Regions from separate parts of the Homo sapiens genome. Here regions 1 and 2 are each linked to region 3. The links come from fine-mapping of genetic effects on gene expression. A gene starts in region 3. Each other region holds a variant in brackets. All regions are shown on one strand. Distances are between the middles of the regions. Region 1 has its middle 10 kb from the start of TKT. Region 2 has its middle 64 kb from the start of CACNA1D. Region 3 holds the start of DCP1A (decapping mRNA 1A).

Region 1 (7,398 bases), 82 kb before region 3:
TCTTCCTCTTCCTCTTCCTCTTCTTCTTCTTCTTCTTCTCCTTCTCCTTCTTCTCCTTCTTCCCTCTTCCCTCTTCCTCCTCCTCCTCCTTCTTTTTTTGAGACAGAGTCTAGCTCCGTCCTCCAGGCTAGAGTGTAGTGGCACAATCTCAGCTCACTGTAACCTCCGCCTCCCGGGTTCAAGCGATTTTTGTGCTTCAGTCTCCTGAGTAGCTGGGCCTACAGGCATGTGCCACTGGGCCCAGCTATTTTTTTTTTTTTTTTTTTTGAGACAGAGTCTCGCTCTGTCACCTAGGCTGGAGTGCAGTGGCACGATTTCAGCTCACTGCAACCTCAGCCTCCCAGGTTCAAGCAATTCTCCTGCCTCAGCCTCCCGAGTAGCTGGGATTACAGGCACACACCACCGTGCCCAGCTAATTTTTGTATTTTTAGTAGAGACAGGGTTTCACTATGTTAGCCAGGCTGGTCTGGAACTCCTGACCTCATGATCTGCCCGCCTGGGCCTCCCAAAGCACTGAGATTACAGGCATACACCACTGTGGCCAGCCTATTTCTGTATTTTTAGTAAAGATGGGATTTTGCCCTGTTGGCCAGGCTGATCTTGAACTCCTGACCTCAGGTGATCCACCAGCCTTGGCCTCCCAAAGTGCTGGGATTACAGGTGTGAGCCACTGTGCCCGGCCTAAAAACACTCAATTTCTGATTATCGAAGTAAAACATAGTCATCGGAAAAACTTTAAAAGTACAGAATTTTTTTTTTTTTTTCTGACTGGGTCTTGCTTTTGCCTAGGCTGGAGTACAGTGGCACAATCTTGGCTCACTGCAACCTCTGTCTCCTGGGCTCAAAGGGATTCTCCCACCTCAGCCTCCTGAGTAGCTGAGACTATAGGCATGCACCATCATGCCTGACTAATTTTTAGTATTTTTGGTAGAGATGGGGTTTTGCCATGTTGCCCAGGCTGGTTTCGAACTCCTGGGCTCAAGCGACCCACCCACCTCAATTTCCCAAAGTGCTGGGATTACGGGCGTGAGCCACCATACTTGGCCCAGAAAATTTCAAAGTAAACTAAAATCATGGACTATTCCACTCAAAGGGGACTACTGTTAAAGTTGCTTGCTCATTTGACAAATATTGATTTATTATATATAATTGTTATGAAGAAAATAGGCCGGGCACAGTGACTCACACACACCTGTAGCACATTGGGAGGCTAAGGCAGGAAGATTGCTTGAGTCCAGGAGCATGAGACAAGCCTGCACAACATGGTGATACCCTGTCTCTACAAACTAAAAATTTAAAAATTAGGCTGAGCACGGTGGCTCACGTCTGTAATCCCAGCACTTTGGGAGGCCGAGGCGGGCAGATCACCTGAGGTCAGGAGTTCCAGACCAGCCCGGCTAACATGGTGAAACCCCATCTCTACTAAAAATACAAAAATTAGCTGGGTGTGGTGGTGCACACCTGTAGTCCCAGCTACTCAGGAGGCTGAGGCAGGAGAATTGCTTGAACCCAGGAGGCAGAGGTTGCAGTGAGCCTAGATCGTGCCCCTGCACTCCAGCCTAGGCAACAGGGCGAGACTCCATTTAAAAAAAAAAAAAATTAAAAATTAGCCGGGCATGGTGGCCTGTACCTGTAGTCCCAGCTACTCAGGAAGCTGAGGTGGGAGGCTTGTTTAAGCCCAGGAGTTCGAGGCTGCAGTGAGCCATGATTGAGCCAGTGCATTCTAGCCTTGGTGACAGAGCCAGATCTTGTCTCAAAAGTAAATAAATAAATACAATAGGGTCAGGGTCAGGGGTCAGGGGCTGGATATACACTTCAGGTTGTCAGGCAAGGCTGAAGACAGTCATTGCTCAGTATGTTTGCTATTGTGAATTCCTTGTTTTAAAAAATACATTGTCGGCTAGATGCAGTGGCTCATGCCTATAATCCCAGCACTTTGGGAGGCTGAGGTGGACGGATCATCTGAGGTCAGGAGTTTGAGACCAGCCTGGCCAACATGGCGAAACCCCATCTCTACTAAAAAATACAAAAATTAGTTGGGTGTGGTGGGGGGCGCCTGTAATCCCAGCTACTCAGGAAGCTGTGCGTGTGCCTGTAATCCCAGCTACTCGGCAGGCTGAGGCAGGAGAATTGCTTGAACCTGGCGGGTGGAAGTTGCAGCGAGCCGAGATCGCGCCACTTCGCTCCAGCCTGGGCGAAAGAGTGAAACTCCGTCACAAAAAAAAAAAAAAAAAAAAAAATCCATTGTCAGGATCATGTAAAACCATTTTCCCCCTATATTTTCTCATTAGCATTTCAAAATGCTTCGAAGAAATCATTTTTACTAGCTGTGCATTGTCCCATCATAGGGCCGTGTCCTCATCTATTAACCATCCCTTAGGGCTGAACGCTCAGACCCCTTCCAGCTGTTAATCATTGGGTATTGCCCTGCAGTTAACATTTTCGTGCCTAAATCTTGTCCTCCTGGTGAGTTATTTCCTGAACCAGAGTCCTCAGCAGGTGTTGAGAGGAAGGTGGCAGTTTTGCCAGAGATCTGGGTACATATTTGGCTGAGGGCTGGCCAGAAAGCCTGGTTCTGCCACTCATCACCTTTGCTTCCAATTGGCAAGGTCCCATTGTGGGATTGACAGAGTGAGAGGAGAGAGGGAGCCCGAAACCTGCATGGCCTTCAGTGGAGCCCTTTCTCCAGTCCTGTTTCTCACATCTGTAAGAGAGGCTTATTCTTGCTACATGCAGAGGTTGAATTCTCCCCTTGTGCCAGGCCCTGTGTGCCGAGTCAGAGCCCCTTGGGGCCATTTTCTGTCTGGGAAAAGCAGATCCAGCTAGGTTTAGTAGGGCTGGAAGACTTCTGATAGTTTTCAGGTCATAGACCCATAAACTTTTCTGGGCAATTACGTGTAGGGGGTGGGAGTGTATTGGACCCCTCTGGCCAGTAGCAAAGGGAAGTGCAATGAGAGGAGAGAATTCTGAGATGAGTTTTGCAAATCACTTTCACCACGATGTCCGCAAACTCCAGGGTCCTGGGACTGGGCAAGAGCCCCATGAGAGGGAGACAAAGGGGAGGAAAGGGAGTCTGGAGACAGGAGAAAAACGCACCAGCTCCTCGACTTTGCTGGGAGCCAGCCCACCCAAGTACACATGACTTTCCCCTCTTTTTCCTTTCACATTTATTGCCTCTCTCTGTCTCTCTCTCTCTCTCTTTTTTTTTTTTTTTTTGAGACAGGGTCTTACTCTGTTGTCTAAGCTGGAGTGCAGTGGCACAATCTCAGCTCATTGCAACCTCCACCTCCCGGGTTCAAGTGATCCTCCTACCTCAGCCTCCCGAGTAGCTGGGACCACAGGTGTGTGCCATCATGCCCTACTAATTATTTTGTAGAGATGGGGTTTTGCTGTGTTGCCCAGGCTGGTCCCAAACTCCTGGGTTCAAGCAATCCACCCACCTCGGACTCCCAAAGTGCTGGGATTATAGGTATGAGCCACTGTACCTAGCCTCTTTTTTTTTTTTCTTAATCACATTTTTTATCTCATTTTGAGATAAAATGAACACACCGTGAAATCTACCCTCCCTTAAAAGTGTATAATTCAATGATTTTTGGTGTTGAGGGATAGAGAAAATAAATTAATTTTTTTTTTTTAATTCTCATATAGTCACTACAACACAGAACACTTCTGTGGTCCCTGGTCACCAAAATATGTGAGGATTTCTCCCCATCAAGCAATCCTGCAGTGGACACCAGCTGTGTGTCCTCTAATTCAACTCAATTCTGACACTATCTGGAGATAGTGTCAGATCCCACAGACTGAGGGCTCAGGTCCGTAAGACTGTCCCCTACTTCAGATGCCAATCACAGGTCTTGGCCTCTGCAACTTCTGAGGAACTTACTATAAATTGAGGTTCCCAAGATCCCGTCCCTGGTTCAATTAACTTGCTAGAG[T/G]GGCTCACAGAACTCAGGGAAACATTTTACTTATAATGACCCGTTTATTATAAAGGATATTACAAAGGAATCAGAGAAATAGCCAGATGAAGAGACAGATAGGGTGAGGTATGCGGGGAGAGGGAGCTGAAAGTTCCAGACCTCTAATCCTCTAATTACTTGGTCTTTCTGGTGACTGCCCCATCCCGAGCCTATCTAGAGGCCTCACCCCAAGTCACTGTGTTAGCATAAACGCAGGTGTGATCAAAGAGTGGCTTATGAGTAACAAAAGACATGCCTTCTGCTAAGCAAATTCCAAGGGTTTTCAGCCCTGTGACAGGAACTAGGGACAAATACTAAATATATTTCATCAAGATATGGAAGCAGGCTGGGTGTAGTGGCTCATGCCTGTAATCCCAGCACTTTGGGAGGCAGAGGCAGGCAGATCACTTGAGGCCAGGAGTTCAAGACCAGCCTGGCCAACATGGCAAAAACCCATCTCTACTAAAAATATAAAAATTAGTTGAGTGTGGTGGCGCGTGCCTGTAATCCCAGCTACTCGGGAGGCTGAGGCATGAGAATCGCTTAAGCCTGGGAGGCAGAGGTTGCAGTGAGCCAAGATCGTGCCACTGCATTCCAGCCTGGGTGACAGAGCAAGACTTTCTCTCAAAAAAAGGAAAAAAAAAAAAAAAGATATGGAAGTAACCTAAGCATCCACCAAAGGATGAAAGGATAAAGAAAATTTGGGCTGGGCATGGTGGCTTATGCCTGTAATCCCATTACTCTGGAGGCCGAGGCGGGCAGATCATGAGGTCAGGAGTTCGAGACTAGCCTGGCCAACATAGTGAAACCCTGTCTCTACTAAAAACACAAAAAGTAGCCAGGCGTGATGGCACACGCCTGTAGTCCCAGCTACTCAGGAGGCTGAGGTGGGAGAATTGCTTGAATCCGGGAGGCAGAGGTTGCAGTGAGCCGAGACCATACCATTGCACTCCAGCCTGGGTGACAGAGCGAGACTCCGTCTCAAAAAAAAAAAAAAAAAAAAAAAAAATTAGCCAAGTGTCTACTCCAGGGGCTGAGGTGGGAGAATTGCTTGAGCCCAGTAGTTCGAGGCTGCAATGAGCTATGATTGTGCCACTGCACTCTAGCTTGGGTGACAGATCAAGATTCTGTCTCTTAAAAAATAATAATTAGGCCGGGCGTGGTGGCTCACACCTCTAATCCCAGCACTTTGGGAGGTTGAGGCAGGCAGATTGCCTGAGCCGAGGAGTTCAAGACCAGCCTGGGCAACATGGTGAAACCCTGTCTCTACTAAAAATACGAAAAAAATTAGCCGGGTGTGGCAGTGCGTGCTCCTGTAGTCCCAGCTACTTGGGAGGCTGAGGCAGGAGAATCACTTGAACCCGGGAGGCGGAGGTTGCAGTGAGCCGAGATCACGCCACTGCACTCCAGCCTGGGCGACAGAGCAAGACTCCGTCTCCAAAAATATATATATATAAAATAAAAATAAAAAATCTTTAAAAATTAAACAAATCTAAAAAGACCAAATATATTTTGTATTATACCATAGGTATATTCACAGATTGTGCAGCTTGTGCACTTCTAAGCACTACCTAATTTTAGAACTTATTCTTTTTTTTTTTTTTTTGAGACAGGGTCTCTCTGTTGCCCAGGCTGGAGTACAGTGACTCACCATAGCCTTGACCTCCTGGGCTTAAACCATCCTCCCACCTCAGCCTCCAGAGTTGCTGACAGCAAAGGTGTGAGCCACCATGCCCAGCCAGTTTTTTTTATTATTTGTAGAAACAGGGTGTCCCTATGTTGCCCAGACTTGACTTGAACTCCTGCACTCAAGTGATTCTTTGGCCTCAGCCTCTCAAAATGCTTGGATTACAGATGTAAGCCACCACACCTGGCCTAGTTTTAGAACATTTTTACCACCCAGAAAAAGAGACCTGTACTCATTGATAGTTCCCTATTTTTCCCTCTTCCTCATTCCAGGCAACCAGGAATCTACTTGTGGTCTCTATGGATTTGCCTATTCTGGATATTTCATATAAATGGCACCATTGCAATTTGTGATCTTTGTGTCTGACTTCTTTCACTCAGTGTGATGTTTTCAAGGTTCATCCGCCTTGTCGCTTGTATTAGTACTTTATTCCTTTTGTTGATAAATAATTTTCCATCCTGTGGATATGCCACAATATTCCTACCCATTCATCAGTTCACGGACATTTGGTTTTTTTCCACTTCTTTGCTATTATGAATAATGCTGCTTTGAATGGTGATATAAACATTTTTTTGTGGACCTGTGTTTTCAGTTATCTTGGGTATATGCACAGGAATGGAATTGCTGGGTCATACAGCAATTCTACAAACGGTCATCTAACCATTTGAGGAACTGCCAAACTATTTTCCAAAGTGGCCCCACCATTTTACAGTTTCACCAGTGATGAATGAGGGTTCCAGTTTCTCCATGACTTTGTCTACAGTTGTTGTTGTATTTTTTTTTTTTTTTTTTGAGATGGAGCCTTGCTCTGTAACCCAGGCTGGAGTGCAGTGGCGCAATCTTGGCTCACTGCAACCTCTGCCTCCTGGGTTCAAGCGATTCTCCTGCCTCAGCCTCCTGAGAGTAGCTGGGACTATAGGCACCCACCACCATGCCCAGCTAATTTTTTTGTATTTTTAGTGGAGACAGGGTTTCACCATATTGGCCAGACTGGTCTCAAGCTCCTGACCTTGTGATCTGCCCGCCTCAGCCTTCCAAAGTTCTGGAATTATAAGCGTGAGCACCACGTCCGGCCTGTTGTTGTATCTTTTTTACCTGAAGCATCCTAGTGGGTGCAAAGTGTTACCTCATTACGGTGGTTTTGTCACTTATTGCTTTTTAAAAAATATTATACAAGTAACACATATTCCATGTAGAAAATTTGGAAATTTAACAAAAATACTGTGATGGTCAGTTTTATGTGTCAATTTGGCTAGACTAGTACCCAGTTATTCAATCACACACTAACCTAGGTGTTTCTTTTATTTATTTATTTAGAGGCGGAGTCTCGCTCAGTCACCAAGGCCAGAGTGCAGTGGTGCAATCTCGGCTCATTGCAACCTCCGCCTTCTGTGTTCAAGTGATTCTCCTGCCTCAGCCTCCCAGTAGCTGGGATTACAGGTGCCCACCACCACGCCCGGCTAATTTTTTTGAATTTTTAATAGAGACGGAGTTTCACCATGTTGGCCAGGCTGGTCTCAAACTCCTGACCTCGTGATCCACCCACCTTGGCCTCCCAAAGTGCGTGGATGACAGGCGTGAGCCATTGCGCCTGGCCCAATATTTTATTTTACTCATTTTTTTTTTGGAGTTGGAGTCTCACTCTGTCACCCAAGCTGGAGTGTAGGGGCGCAATCTCGGCTCACTGCACAAACTCTGCATCCCAGGTTCAAGTGATTCTCCTGTCTCAGCCTTTCAAGTAGCTGGTACACAGGC
Region 2 (7,398 bases), 83 kb after region 3:
TTTTCTATATAATCACATGAGTAAATGGTTCTAGATCCTTGGAAGAAGAACTGGGGGAATCATTATAGTATAACTTGCTGTGTTGTTAAGGGACTTGGCCACCTCACCTCCTTTGGGCAGTGGGTTCCAGATCTAAAAGTTGCCTTGGGCTGGGAACAGAGTGAGGGAAAGGGAAAGCAAGTTTTTGGTTTGTTTGTTTGTTTGTTTGTTTGTGATCACCCTCAAGCTCCATTCTTCCTTTTAGTGTGTGCGTGTGTGTGTGTGTATGTGTTGCTTGTAGATGTTAAGTAGCACCCTTGATGGCTGTCCATCTGTTTTGCCCCAGGAACATTATAGGCTCTATTCACCATCTCTAAACTCTGTGTGTTAAGTCCCTTTCCCTGCCACAAGCCTCTATGTCTTTGGGCCCCATAGTATACATGAATATTAAGGAGCCCAGCTCTGATTGCCTTTCCAATCATGAACGCTGGCCTGCAGAGAAGAACCATCACTAAACTTGTTGGTGGTGCCAGATAGATGGGGAGTCCTCAAGCTAAAGTTGCCTGTTGGAGGACTCTCTGTCTTGCTAGAATAAGCCTGCATTAGTACCCCTGCTGTGGCCAGCCGTTGGTTGAGAGCAGCCCGTGGAAGCCTGGCACAAATGTGGTGGCAAATCCAGAGGAGTAGCAGCTGGAGCCATCAGTCAGTGATTCCCCTGCAGCAGGGGGCCTAAGCAGTGTGTTTTCACGGCTGCTACACATCCTCTCTCAGGTAAGAGTCCAGGAGTGGAGAAGGCCTCTAGCTCACAATGTGGTAACGGGAAGGAATGACTGTACCAAAGACAGGTAGGCATAGTTTCTGGGGTTTCTTTCCCTAAATTATCTTTGGAAACTTCACTTTCACTTATTTTTTGATGTGCCCAACATTAAAAAAATTGAGATATAATTCACAAACCATAAAATTTTCATATTTTAAGTGTATGACCCAGTGGTTTTTTAGTATAGTCACAAAGTTGTACAAACATCACCACTATCTAATTTCAGAACATTTTTATATCCGCAAAAGAAATCCTGTACCCATTAGCGGTGACCCTCTGTTCCTCCACCTGCATTTCTGGTGACCAGTAATCGACTTTCAGTCTCTATGGATTTGCCCATTATGGACATTTTATGTAAATGGAATCATACGATATATGGCTTTTTATGTCTGGCTTCTTTCTTTTTTCTTTTTTTTGAGACACAGTCTTTCTCTGTCACCTAGGCTGGAGTACAGTGGTAAGATCTTAGCACACTGCAACCTCTGCCTCTTGGGTTCAAGCAATTTTCCTGCCTCTGCCTCCCAAGTAGCTGGGATTACAGGCGCCCACCATCACACCTGGCTAATTTTTTGTATTTTTAGTAGAGATGGGGTTTCACCATGTTGGCCAGGCTGGTCTTGAACTTCTGACCTCAAGTGATCCATCCACCTCAGCCTCCCAAAGTGCTGGGATTACAGACGTGAGCCTCTGCGCATGACTGGCTTCTCTCATTGAGCATAATGTTTTCAAGGTTCATCCATGGTAGCATGTATCAGTACTTCATTCCTTTCGGGGTTGAATAATATTCCATTGTGTGAATATACCATATTTGGTTTATCTGTTCATCAGCTGATGGATATTTGGGCTGTTTTCACTTCTTGGCTATTATAAATAATGCTTTTCTGAACATCTGTGTATAAGTTTTTCATATGTTTATGTATATTTTCACTTCTCTAGGGTATAAGATTAGACCACTGGGTCATATGGTCACTCTATGTTTAATTGTTTGTGGAACTGCTAAACTGTTTGCCAAAGCATGTACCCAGCATTCTTTTTTACTTATTACTTTTTTAGAGATGAGGTCTTACTATATTGTCCAGGCTGATCTCAAACTTCTGGGCTCAAGTAATCCTCCTGTGTTGGCCCAACATTTTTTATAGGCATTTTGGGAGACACAAAAGTGAAGCTAATCCCTCACCCCAAAGAGCATACAAGTTAGAGTAGACGGGAGATGAAATTAACATGTATACATTTGAAATATAAGCATAGTACAGCTAATAATGAAGGGCTAATCTGTGTATCTCCAAATTAAAAGTACATCTACACTCATATGCTCTGAGAGCTAGAAGGGAAGAGAAGAGGAGGGAATGACAAATATGCAGTAGTTAGGGGTGTGCCCTCAAAACCTCCATTTCCACGATCTTCTTCAACAAGACCAGGATGGGACCACTCAGGACAAGGGAAGAGCAACTGCTTGAGATTCTGGAAAGCCTGCCCAGTGGCAGGGAGGGGATGTTCTCTGACTGCTTTGTTTTACATGATATTTTTAGATAAAAATCTGATATGGTAGGCTAACCATCTGTAGAACCTATGTTTTAGATGTTTCTTCCAAAAGTGAACTTAAACATGAGTTAGAGCTACTTCTATTCTCTGAACTGGTGTCCTTGTGATAGATGGTACAAATTTGCTGACTAATTTGTTGAAGTTACAGTTAAAATATGTGACCAGGAGCAGACAGAAAGCAATGACTCTATAGAGGAAATGGACAATGAACTGTGCGTTCTAAGCTATAGGAAGAATATCTTGGAGTATCTTCTATTTTATGCCAAAATGACATTGTTGCATTAGTATTCTGCCTCTCTTCTTCCTTCAGTGGGCTTCTTAATGGATGGAGTCAAATAGTTTTCATTTTCTACCCATTTATCTTTCAGAGACCATATAAATGATAGGATAGACATTATTCCCACTGACTTATTCTGAAATACTTCTTAAATAAAACTAGCATCACCTTTTGTCCATGTCATTTTGATATTTGCAGGTGACTTGTTACTCTGGAAATTCCATAACTTCTCCTCTCAGTATCCAGACCTCATTGCCCTTCAGTCATCACTGATAACTGTGGAAGACTGCTCACCATACACTCTCACCTGACAATGCTCACCCAATCTGTCCTTCGCAAGGAGATTTGTTCTG[G/A]GCTCTACACACCCTCTTTTCTGAGCTTCCTCACCTTCTTGCAAGGCTGACATTAATTCTGAATTTTAAGCAAGAAAATACGGGGAGTGAGGGAGAAGAAGCCTTTTCTGTTTGTGCACTAAAAAGCATGTTCTGTTTCCCTCTTTGAAGGAGGAGGGACTTGATAATGGACTGGTTCCCTCCACTTGTTAAAATTCTCATCTTTTAGTATAGAAAAAAACCAAATTGCATGGTAAAGCTGTCTTTATTTTCTCCATGACTAAACACTGCATTTCTCAGCACTTAACAAGTCATTGTTCTGAAAAATTGGTTTCAGATCAGACCCTGCTTCCTAATGAGGCAGTGACTTAGTTCGTAATACTTTTTTTTTTTTTCTGGACTCTAAACAGTAGCAGGCAGGAAAAAGGGAACAAAAGATGGATGGGAAATAAAATTGCACCATTGCCCCTTTCCAGTGGGGTCTGTCTGTGAGTAATAAAGCGTTGATCGAAGAGCCGGGTCTTTGATTGGAATTCTATGAATCAGCAAGTACTAATTAAACAGCTACTGCATGACCAGCTTTGGGCATTGTTGGTTGAGGGCCCAAGGAAAAGGAGGGTTGCTGCAATCTAATTTGGGAGGCAAGATTTTAATCTTGCTATTTCTGGGCTTCCTGTCTCTATCACATCAAGTCTGAATCTTTCCTTTTTCTTGGAGGATCTTCCAAAAGCTGTGATTCACCTGCTCTTACAACTTTACTTGCCATTTTATTCCCCAAAAGGAACTCTTCTTAAATCTGTCTGGTCTCATGCGCCATTTTCATTGGCTTCATTCACTGCTTTCCCATCTCCCTTATTCCAAACCCAAAACTTCCACCTTTCAGAGTCTAATTCAAGTTCCATTTTTTTTGAAGTTTCTCAATTGCTGTAGAATTTACTGATCATTTTACTTGATTTCTTCAACTTTAGAGCACAAATCTATGTTAAATAATTTGATTCTTGCTTATAAATTATTCTGTATTTTTCACTAACTTCAAGTGTTCCATGAAATTTTCCTTCAGAGTTGAGAAATATATTGTTTCTCTCAGAGTACTTTTTAAGCATCCTTCCATCAAATCAACAATATGTATTAAGTGCTTATTTTGCACCAGCACAGTTCCAAGGCACTGGAGAGATACAACAAGATGAGACAAAGCTCCTGCCCACATGGAATTATACTCTAGAGAGAGAGGCAGACAATAAACAGACCAAACAAATAGATGATCTAATACCAGAGACTGGTAAGTGATGAGCACAGTCTTGAATACATGTACATTCTTATCTTAAGAAATCACTGTTTGGAGAACAAGTGCAGACTAATTAGAGAATAATATAATTAACAACCTCGTGCAAATTATTTGTGCACTTTACAGTTGATCTATGGTATCATCTCGGGTGCTTAACTTTGCGATGCTTCAGTTTCTTCATTTCTAAATTGTCTATCATGTTACTGGTTCCCCAAACCATCAACCCAGCTACTGGGAAGCTGCACCACATCATGGCTATAGGCAGTGCTGCTTCTTGAAGAGAATCTTCATGCTCATGTTCCCTGATGCATAAGTACAGAATCACATCAAAAACAATATTACCCCCTCCCACACTCCAACGATCACACTTAGTTACTTGCATAATTTTCTGGTCTTTCAATTGTTCGAAACCAAGCCTCTAATAATTATTCTCAGTTTTGATTCATATTGAATTAAAGGGACTTTAGAATCACCTAATCCATGACCTCACATTACAGGTGGAGAAATCAAGGCCAAAAATATAGAGGCCAATAAGTTACTGTAATCGTATTTGGGCATGACATATCTGATCGTAGCTCACTGCAGCCTAGACCTCCCAGGCTGCAAGTCGAGGCTGCAGTGAGCTACAGTTGGGAATGTCATGCCCGAATACAATATAGTAACTTGTTCGCAAAATCAGGACTAAAGCCTAGACTGCTGATACTCCCCTCCACCCCCAGCTATAATTTCATTATTTCGTTCCATCTAATCTGGAATGGCTTTCTTTGACCCTTACAGGCTGCCAAGGCGGATATTAGAGCTTATTGTATTCTCTGCTGTGGGACTATTTCCCCAGCAAATACTAAGCTCTGAAAGCCCACCTGCTTATGGCCCTGTCCCTGCTGTATACTGTACTGCCTGGCACATTGGTGCACCCAGTAAATTTTGGTTGAATGATGGCATTATTAGTGAATAATTTAAGTGCATCTTACTTTTGCAAGAAATCCATTTCTAAAGAGTGATGTGTGAAATGAATGTTAGTAAATAGAATATGACTTTCTTCTTTTTTTTTTCCCATTCAGAAAAGATGACTATATTTATTTTGGATTTGCCTTTGATTGGCAGTAGTTCCTTGCATTTTATGCTTTATGTTTCTTCCCCCGTTCAGGGACTTTGTAAAGCAGTTCATAGTGTGTAAACCGACACTCGAGTATACTAAAGGAACAACTATTTAAGCTCACTGTGATTAACTTTTCGTATATTGAAGAATAGTTTATTCTGTCTGTTTCCTCAACCTATTATAGATCTACTTACCACTCCTGGATTTCACATGTTGATTTTTCTCATTCCATGTTGGAATGTTAAGAACCGAAACCAAGTTTGGAGTGGTCCTAGAGTGAGGACAAAGCATAAGCAACATCATAGAACAGTCAGTGTTGTAAAAGACTAGCAAGTGAGGCTGGGCACGGTGGCTCATGCCTGTAATCCCAGCACTTTGGGAGGCCAAGATGGGTGGGTGGCTTGAGCCCAGGATTTTGAGATCAGTCTGAGCAACCTGATGAAACCCCGTCTCTACAAAAAATGGAAAATAAATCAGTCAGGCATGGTGGTGTGCGCCTGTAGTTCCAGCTACTCAGGAGGCTGAGGCTGGAGGATAGCTTGAGCCTGGGAGGTCGAGGCTGCAGTGAACCATGATCACACGAATGCACTCAGCCTGGGCAACAGAGTGAGACCCTGACTCAAAAGAGAGAGAGAGAGAGAGAGAGAGAGAGAGAAAAAAGACTAGCAAGTGAGAAAAGACTAGGGGGTAGACTGAGAGACTGAGATGTGTTGTACAGTCTTGAGTGTCAGGATGGGGAAACTGCATTTAACTTGGTACATCTTTGAAGATTTGATTCATTCAAACCTCTTAGCTATAATCTAGCCAAATTCCTTACCCAATACGTTGAAAATTCCCCCTTTGAAGGGTTTTTAGCAGAGCTTTTCACGTTCTTCTTGATCTGCCCTTGACTTGTCATTCTGGCCTCATTCCTTATATATCCACCAACTGAAATGATGAGCTTCTTCTAGTTTACTGAGCACTCCTTGTTCTATTGCCTCTGGATCTTCACCTCCCCTCATAGCTCTGTATTGATGGTGAACTCTAACTCATTTGTATTTGTAAACATTGTCATCCTGCATTTATTCATTCATTTAGCAAATCATTTGAGTGCTGACTATGTGCAGTGTGTGGTGTACATGACTTAAGGAAATTTAGTAATAAACAAAATCTTCCCAAATAAAAATTTGACTTTGGCTTAAATAAATGTGTACATAAGTATTACTTCTTCTTCTTCTTTTCTTTTTTTGAGTTGGAGTTTTGCTCTGTTGCCCAGGCTGGAGTGCAATGGCGTGATTTCAGCTCACTGCAACCTCTGCCTCCTGGGTTTAAGAAATTCTCCTGCCTCAACCTCCCTAGTAGCTGGGACCACAGGCACCTCCTACCACACCCAGCTAATTTTTGCATTTTTAGTAGAGATGGGTTTCACCATATTGGTCAGGCTGGTCTCAAACTCCTGATCTCAAGTGATCCACTTGTCTCAGCCTCCCAAAGAAGTGGGATTATAGGTGTGAGCCACTGCACCCAGCCTCTTTTTAAAATTTTATTTCAATGGCTTTTGGGGAACAGGTGGTTTTTGGTTACATAGATAAGTTCTTTAGCAGTTATTTCTGAGATTTCGATGCACCCAGCAGTATTACTTCTTATTAAAATAAGAAATGAATGTACACTTGGAATGAAGAGGGAGTTTTTGGTGTAGTGGGTAAGGGATTTGGCTAGATGACATCTAAGGGGTCTGAATAATCTGAGTCACAATTCTATAACACATTTCATAAATGAAACATTGAACTCTAACTTACTCTTAAGGTTTCACATATCATTTCTACCAGGAGCCTTTCCTGTCCCCCACCAACTGAGTTGGACACTGGTCCTGCTCACTCCTTCCCCTTGGTGACCCTGTCATACCACCTATCACTCTGAGTTCTGATTGCTTGCTGAAATGTCTGTATCCATCTCCAGATAGTAAGCTCCTTGGGAAGGGACTCTGACATGTTCACCACTGTATTCCCATTGCCTGGCACACAATGGCATGAGTATTTGATGCATGAATAAAGGAAATAATGAGCAAATAAATGCATGGGTGGAATG
Region 3 (7,398 bases):
AATATATATCTTTCTTTTTCTTTCTAATATGGGGGTAGGAAGAGAGACGCAGGCATCCATTTTAGACTCAATCATTATTATTTTGAAATTGCTTTGCTAGGCTGGTAATATAAATTCTAGTTCAGTTTATTCTGAATCACAGAAAGGCTCAGAGAAAAGAAAGAACCTGGTTAAGATTTCACAGCTAGGGAAAGATGAAAACTTGAAGGGTACTAGCAGGACGGTTCCAAAGACAAATGTACAAGAGAATTGAACCGTTTCACATTGTTCACCACTAGACTGTTAAAAACAAATATACATATTTTAAAAACTTACCTTCGATATACGAATAAGGTCCCTTCTATATCAGTCTTCTCCTATGAAAGACAATGACTCAATTAGTTTTTTTTCCCCATAATCAGACCCCAAATAGTCCCCATGGAGAAGTAATGCTTCACGTTTAAGATCAACTTGTTTCATTTCATCTATTATAAAATTAACCACTTTTGAACAGGTAAAGTCTCCCTCTCATTCCACAAATTGTGGTTACCATTTCTAATGTATCCTTTCAGTGCATAAGCATATGCAATATTTAATCCAGCAACATATCTGTATCTGCAGTATTTTTCTTTTTTAATTAGTAAAGGAGAAAATCATAGAATAAACCTTCACTTTTTATAGCTAAAATATTTTAGCCAGATTTCTTAACTTTAAAGCTAAGGTCCTGTATACTGCAATTTCTTCTCTTTTAAGTTTATCCAAGTTAATTTTAAAAAAGGAAAGGAATGAAACTTTCTTATAGGATACTTTGTTTCATCACTAGGGAGTTTTCGTACATTTTGACAACTAGCAAATTTTGTGGTTAAGAATTACTACCAAACAAAATCAGCTTGTTATTTTTAGAACTTGAAGAATCTTGAATACTGAAAGTATACCCTGCCTCAGTGTAATTATTGGAGGCCTTTACCATAGTTCATTTTCTGTGACAAGAGTGTATTTAGGTTTTAAACACAGTTCAGTGTTTTTTAAAAAATAAATAAGCTTATTAGTCTGCAATTTACAGCCTACAATGGACCTAAATATTTTACTGTAATCAACGCATTATTAACATTTTAAATGTTAGTCATATATTGAATGTGTTGGGATTAAAAAATTTAGAAAATTGATCATCTCGATTTCTTCCAGAAGTACTACCCTAGCTTAAATATCATTATTTTCCTTCCTAAGGATTCAGAGGCTTTTTCTTACCTTTAAAATGTTAGGTTATTACTATAAGAAACTGGTAATCAACTGTCTTACAGTAAAAGAAAATTTGCCCACCAAAAAACATCATGCAAAGTTACAACTCACTGTAAAATAATAAAGAGGGAAAAGATTTTTGTCATGCTCTATGTGCCAGGATCCAAATAAACAGTAGCAGCTTATTTTTCAATTCAGGTTATTATAGCTTGTATTTCATATTTAAAACAGAACTCCACAATGTAAAATTTTAAAATATTGAAAGCCTTTGTGAAAAACTAGGAAAACTCTAGCCCCAAGTCTTCACCATTTGTCGGCAATCCATATTTCAAAATTTATATATAGGCCAAGAAAAGAAAAAAGATTCATAAAATTTCAAACTAAGGCAATGTCTAAAATAGCTACATTTAAAAAACAATCTACAATTTTATTCCTTGTGGCTTCCCATATCTCCTTCTCTTCCAGGAGGCAAAGATAAACAACGTGATTATAAAAACTCTTCATCTGAATTAACTGTTCATAAATGCCAAATGATTTTCGATAAATTACTGATAAATATAATCTATGCAACTGTATTATAGGGTAAACGACATACTACGGTCATCTTCCAGAGTTCTGTCAGTTTAAGGATTTCGTATCTTATTGAAATGTGAACTCCAGTCATTGGTGAATTCAATCCAACAAGCATTTACGTATTACTTTCTAAGTGTAAAGCCTGTAGCTGAATGAGTTAATTAGGAAGGGTCAATTACAAGAAAGTGGGAAATTATGCTTTTTAAACAACTAACAAAGCTTCAAGCAGGGGCTAACAAGAATCAGTGAACACACTGAATGTGACTTTTCGGACCCTCCCCAGTGCACGAAAGCCAGAAAGTACTGAGTCCGAGGGGAGCATTCAGAGATGACATCACCAGCATCATAGATGGAACAAAACACATTTACAGGGTCTCTCTTGTTTGTACAAAGGTCTTCGGGGATCCAGTGAACACGGAAGCCCTTTTCCTAAGTGCCTTGGAATCTTTTCCGAAACTCTGTGTAGTTCGATTAAAGCCGGACCCACCCACCCCCTCCTTCCAAGAATCGAAACTAATTGGATTTTAAACTTTAAACCCAAATGACCTCTGCGACAGGGGCTCTCATTTACGTTTGCCAGGGGGAGAGGAGGAGTGTTTATTTTATAGATAATGTACATATAATTTATCTAATAATCCGCAAAGCCTCAAACACAAGCTTTCAGGCACCCTTTTGACCCCACCGGTCTTATAACTCCCAATGTATCTGCAAAGAAGGCAGGTCGCCCACGTCCCCAGACCCGACGCCAAGGGACTGATCCTGCTCCAATCCTCCCCTCCACTGGCTTTTCCTTGGGATGTCTCGAGCCACTTCTCTCACTCCTATCCCCCAATCCCAAGCGGACCCGACACCCCTCAGGCTCTGGCTAGGCTCTTGGCCAGACCCTGGCCTCGTCTCCACCGCCCTGGCCTCTTAGTGTGCCCCCCCACCCCACAGTAACCCGCGCGGCCCCTTTAAGAGACGGCAGCGGCCGGGTGGCCGTCCTCAGGGCCAGGCGGCACTCACCCACTGGTTGGCCTTGGGGCAGAAGGTGTACAGAGCGACCTGGCCCGTGAGGTCTGCGATGCTGGTGATATAGGGGTCGTGTTGCTTCAGGGCCGCTAGGCTCATCTCCTGCCCAGCTCGACTCAGCGCCTCCATCTTGAATCCCAGAGCCTAGCCCCTCTGGTGGGGGCGGAGTCGCGGACAGGAAAGTGCCATCGAGGCAAAATTCCCCCATCTGCGTCAGTCCCCTCAACTTCCGCCTCTACGCGGGCCTCGCGGCAGGGCGGTACGTCAGCCATTCTGGTCCGCCGCGCGCACGCTCCGGGCGCCGGGTTCCGGCGTTGTCAGGGTCCGCGGCCCTACGATGTGGGCGGTGTCCAAGGCTGCGTAGTGGAGCTTGCAGGCTGGAGCTCCGGCGCTTCCTTTCCCTGAGCTAAAACGACTGGGTCCTGGGATCTGGCCTCTAGCTCGCCTGCCGAGCTCTTTCCAGGCAAAGGTTGGAGACCGCCGAAGTGCCGGCCTCGCGGTGCGCTGTCTGGCAGGGCCCGGGGCCACAGAAGGAAAACATGTCTGTGGAATGTGGAAATGCGGGACTCTACCGGGCCCGTTTAGAGAGCACAGAAAAACATGGGGGAAAGGGAGAGGCGAGAAGCCCAGAAAATTACCCTAGGTCTCAGATATGGATGTGTCGACCTAAAAGGAAGAAGACTCTGGGGCAAAATAAATGCAAGCAGAGAGTTTATTTGGGCCAAGCTTGAGGATTGCACCCCAGGAGCATAGATTCAAGTTGCCTTGAATATATACACTGATTAGCAGAAGGTACAAGTGGATTTTTTTTCTTTTTTTTTGAGACGGAGTTTCACTCTTGTCGCCCAGGCTGAAGTGCAGTGGCGCGATCTCGACTCACTGCAACCTCCGCCTCCAAGGTTCAAGCGATTCTCCTGTCTCAGCGTCCCCAGTAGCTGGGATTACATGGGCGCGCCACCATGCCCTGATAATTTTTGTGTTTATAGTAGAGACGGGGTTTCGCCATGTTGGCCAGGCTAGTCTCGAACTCCTGACCTCAGGCGATCCACCCGCCTCTGCCTCCCAAAGTGCTGAGATTACAGGCTTGAGCCACCGCGCCCGGCCCTTTTCTTTTTTTCTTTTTGAAACGGAGTCTCGCTCTTTTGCCCAGGCAGGAGTGCCGTGGCACAATCTCAAGCTCACTGCAACCTCTGCCTCCAGGGTTCAAGCGATTCTCCTGCCTCAGCCTCCCAATTAGGTGGGATTACAGGCGCCCGCCACCACACCTGGCTAATTTTTTCTTTTTCTTTTTCTTTTTTTTGAAATGGAGTTTCGCTCTGTCGCCCAGACTGGAGTGCCGTGGCGCGATCTCAGCTCACTGCAACTTCTGCCTCCTGGGTTCAAGCGATTCTCCTGCGTCAGCCTCCAGAGTAGCCGGGATTACGGGCGCCCGCCACCACGCCCAGCTAATTTTTGTATTTTTTTTAGTAGTGACGAGGTTTCACCACATTGGCCAGGCTGGTTTTGAACTCCTGACCTCAGGTGATCTGCCCTCCTTGGCCTCCCAAAGTGCTGGGATTACAGGCGTGAGCCACTGCGTCTGACCCACATAAATATTTTTGTCCAGCCCTGGGAAGAGTCCATGAAGGGTTTAATTTGTCTTGCTTCATTTAAAGCATTAAGCAGATCACTCATTTCATTGGTAAGTGTCTGTTGAGCATTTTAAAGCGTTTGAAAGAGTTAGGCACTAGCTAACAAGTAAAACAAATCATGGAGACTATAGGGAGTTCTATCCCCGCCAGACTTCTTAAAAAGCAACATTTCTTTCGTTAAAAAGGTCATGGAGGCTGGGCGTGGTGGCTCATGCCTGTAATCCCAGCACTTTGGGAGGCTAAGGTGGGAAGACCGCCTGAGGTCAGGAGTTTGAGACCAGCCTGGACAATATGGTGAAACCCCGTCTCTACTAAAAATACAAAAATTAGCCGGGCGTGGTGGCGCACGCCTATAGTCCCAGCTGCTTGGGAGGCTGAGACAGGAGAATCACTTGAACCCGGGAGGCGGAGGTTGCAGTGAGCCAAGGTGGTGCCATTGCACTCCAGCCTGGGCGACAGAGCAAGACTCAAAAAAAAAAAAAAAAAAAGGGTATGGTAGCTAGATGTGTGGGCTCACGCCTGTAATCCTAACACTCTGGAAGGCCGAGGAAGGTGGACCACTTGAGGTCAGGAGTTGGAGACCAGCCTGGCCAACATGGTGAAACCCCATCTATACTAAAAATACAAAAATTAGCTGGGCGTGGTGGCACATGCCTGTAATCTCAGCTACTCAAGAGGCTGAGGCATGAGAATAGCTTGAACCCAGGAGACGGAGGTTGCAGTGACACAAGATTGCACCACTACACTCCAGAGCTTGGGCAACAGAGGGAGAAATTCCATCCAAAAAAAAAAAGGGGGGGGCATGGTGGCATGTAACTGTAGTCCCAGCTATTTGGTAGGCTGAGGTGGGGATCACTTGAGGTCAGGAGTTCAAGACCAGCCTGAGCAACATAGCAAGACTACGTCTGGAAAGAAAAAAAAATTGACATCCCCAACAGAATTGAAAATTTTTGTAAGATAAAACCATATTTTCAAGAAAATAACACTAAATATTTGTATTGCCTATGATTTTATATCCCAGGACCACTGTTTTTTGTCATTGTGTTGATGAGAAGAGTCAAACTCTGTAAAATAGTTGAAGAAATTTATTCTGATCCAACTATGAGTGACCATAGCCCTTGACATAGCTCTCAGGAGATCCTGAGAACATGTGCCCAAGGTGATTGGGGCACAGCTTGGTTTTATACATTTTTGGGAGAGATGAGACATCAAATACATTTCAGGTGTATATTGGTTCTGTCCAGAAAGGTGAAACAACTTGAATTGTGTGCCAGCACACCTGGCTAATTAAAACTTTTTTTTTTTTTTTTTTTTTTTTTTTTTAGAAATGGGGTCTGGCTCTATTGCCCAGGCTGGTCTCAAACTCCTGGCCTCAACCAATCCTCTGGCCTGGGTCTCCCAAAGTGTCCCTGATAAAATGAGTTTTTTCCCCACTGTGTATCAGTCACAAACAAAGAATATCCCATTGAAAAAGGCAATCAGGTTTTATTCATTTGCCAGGGAATGGAGAAGGTGAGCTCTTCCTCTGAAAGCATCTTTTCTTGAAGAATAAAAGGCAAGGGGTTTATTGCCTTTATTCCTATGGGGCAGGAAAGGAATGTTAGTATGTGCAGGGTGGGACTCCAGACACGCAGGCCCAATTCATAAACATGCATCTTCATATATCATATGTACACAAAATGGCAGAGATTTTCTTTTAGGGAAGGGAAATTAGCATTATAATGATATGTTCATGATCTAAAGGCACCCAGGGTTTGCCAGTTCCCATTTGCGCTGGTTTTATGGTGTCTTATCTTCCTCTGGCATCTGGTCAGGGGTCAAGAAGCTCTGGCGCCATCTGGTTTCTTTAAGCAGCAGTGTCTATAGATAAAGGGACCAAAGAAAAACAATAAGAAAAAGGAACTTTCCCAGTTATTTTGTCAGGGCTGTCCTGGTTAACAAAAATGCTGAGATTACAGGCTTGAGCCACCGTGCCCAGCCCCCCTGTTTGTTAATGTAAAGAGAAATTTAGATTCTTTGCAGAATCATGTAAACATGTACAAATGTGGACAAAGACACAGATATCATTCATTCACTCTTAAGTCAGTATTTATTGAACTCCTAATTGTGAGCTGGTGGCCCCTTGGGAGCATCTCACTCTGTTTAAGACATTCCTGGCTCTGAGGGAAAAAAGAAAGTAGGACAGTGCAAGGAAACAGGGATGATGCTAGAGACATTTCTCTTTGAAATCCAGAGGACAGAGCCGCTAACTTAACTGGCTGGGAAAGTCTAGGAGGGCTTCCTGAAGGAGATGATGTTCAAATTGGTGTTCTAGGGATGACTGGGAGTTCAGGGGAAAAAAGTAAGGCCTCTGGTTCATTTCACAGCTCAGTGGTGAGGTAGAGAAGATGTCGTCACCCTCATTTGACAGATGATTTAATTGAGACCTGTGGGGAGAATTCACTGGCTCAAAATTCCACACTAGTCACAGAGGATCCAGTATTAGAATCTAGGGACTCCTATCTTCTACCCTGGGATCCTTTCCTACACGCCCCAGATGCCTTTCTTCCTTCCAGTGGCTGGAGGTAAGAGCCCTATTCCTCTCTACTTACCTTCAATCTGTTTTAAAAATCCGCACCCTAATTTTTAAAAATCTGCACTTTAATGTTTAAAAAACATACATTCATCTGGTACAAAATTCAAAAGGCACACCTGAAACTTAGTTTTTTTTCTTACATAGATTTCCTAAAATAATCGAAGACATTTCATTTTAATTTACTATTTTTGATTGAGCAGGGCTAGCCTATTAAAGAACACCAAGTTATTTTAGGGAATTTTCATATTTGGAATAGAAAATTACTCTGGGCCGGGTGCGGTGGCTCATGCCTATAATCCCAGAACTTTGGGAGGCTGAGGTGCGCGGATCACAAAGTCAGGAGATTGAGACCATCCTGGCTAACACAGTGAAACCCCGTCTCTACTAAAA

What was found. PIP is the estimated chance that this variant, and not a neighbour inherited with it, causes the effect. A credible set is the group of variants that fine-mapping cannot tell apart.
Region 1: its variant is the best candidate, but not a certain one, in a credible set for the expression of DCP1A in testis (GTEx, PIP 0.54).
Region 2: its variant is the best candidate, but not a certain one, in a credible set for the expression of DCP1A in whole blood (INTERVAL, PIP 0.70).

What each region holds. Positions count from the first base shown.
Region 1 is chr3:53,262,329-53,269,726 of GRCh38, forward strand. No RefSeq gene overlaps it. Among named protein-coding and RNA genes, the nearest start is that of TKT, 10 kb to the left of the region's middle. RefSeq lists an enhancer at 7,273-7,398. The variant T/G (reference allele first, on the strand shown) is at 3,936.
Region 2 is chr3:53,427,324-53,434,721 of GRCh38, forward strand. No RefSeq gene overlaps it. Among named protein-coding and RNA genes, the nearest start is that of CACNA1D, 64 kb to the right of the region's middle. The variant G/A (reference allele first, on the strand shown) is at 2,969.
Region 3 is chr3:53,344,587-53,351,984 of GRCh38, forward strand. DCP1A (decapping mRNA 1A) reads right to left here and starts at 2,957. Exons shown (of 10, transcript NM_018403.7): 1 at 2,797-2,957; 2 at 316-356. The coding sequence starts at 2,931. It overlaps LOC105377094 (a long non-coding RNA gene), which reads right to left. Exons shown (of 3, transcript XR_940847.3): 3 at 6,184-6,293. RefSeq lists enhancers at 1,965-2,555, 2,556-3,146, 2,682-3,451.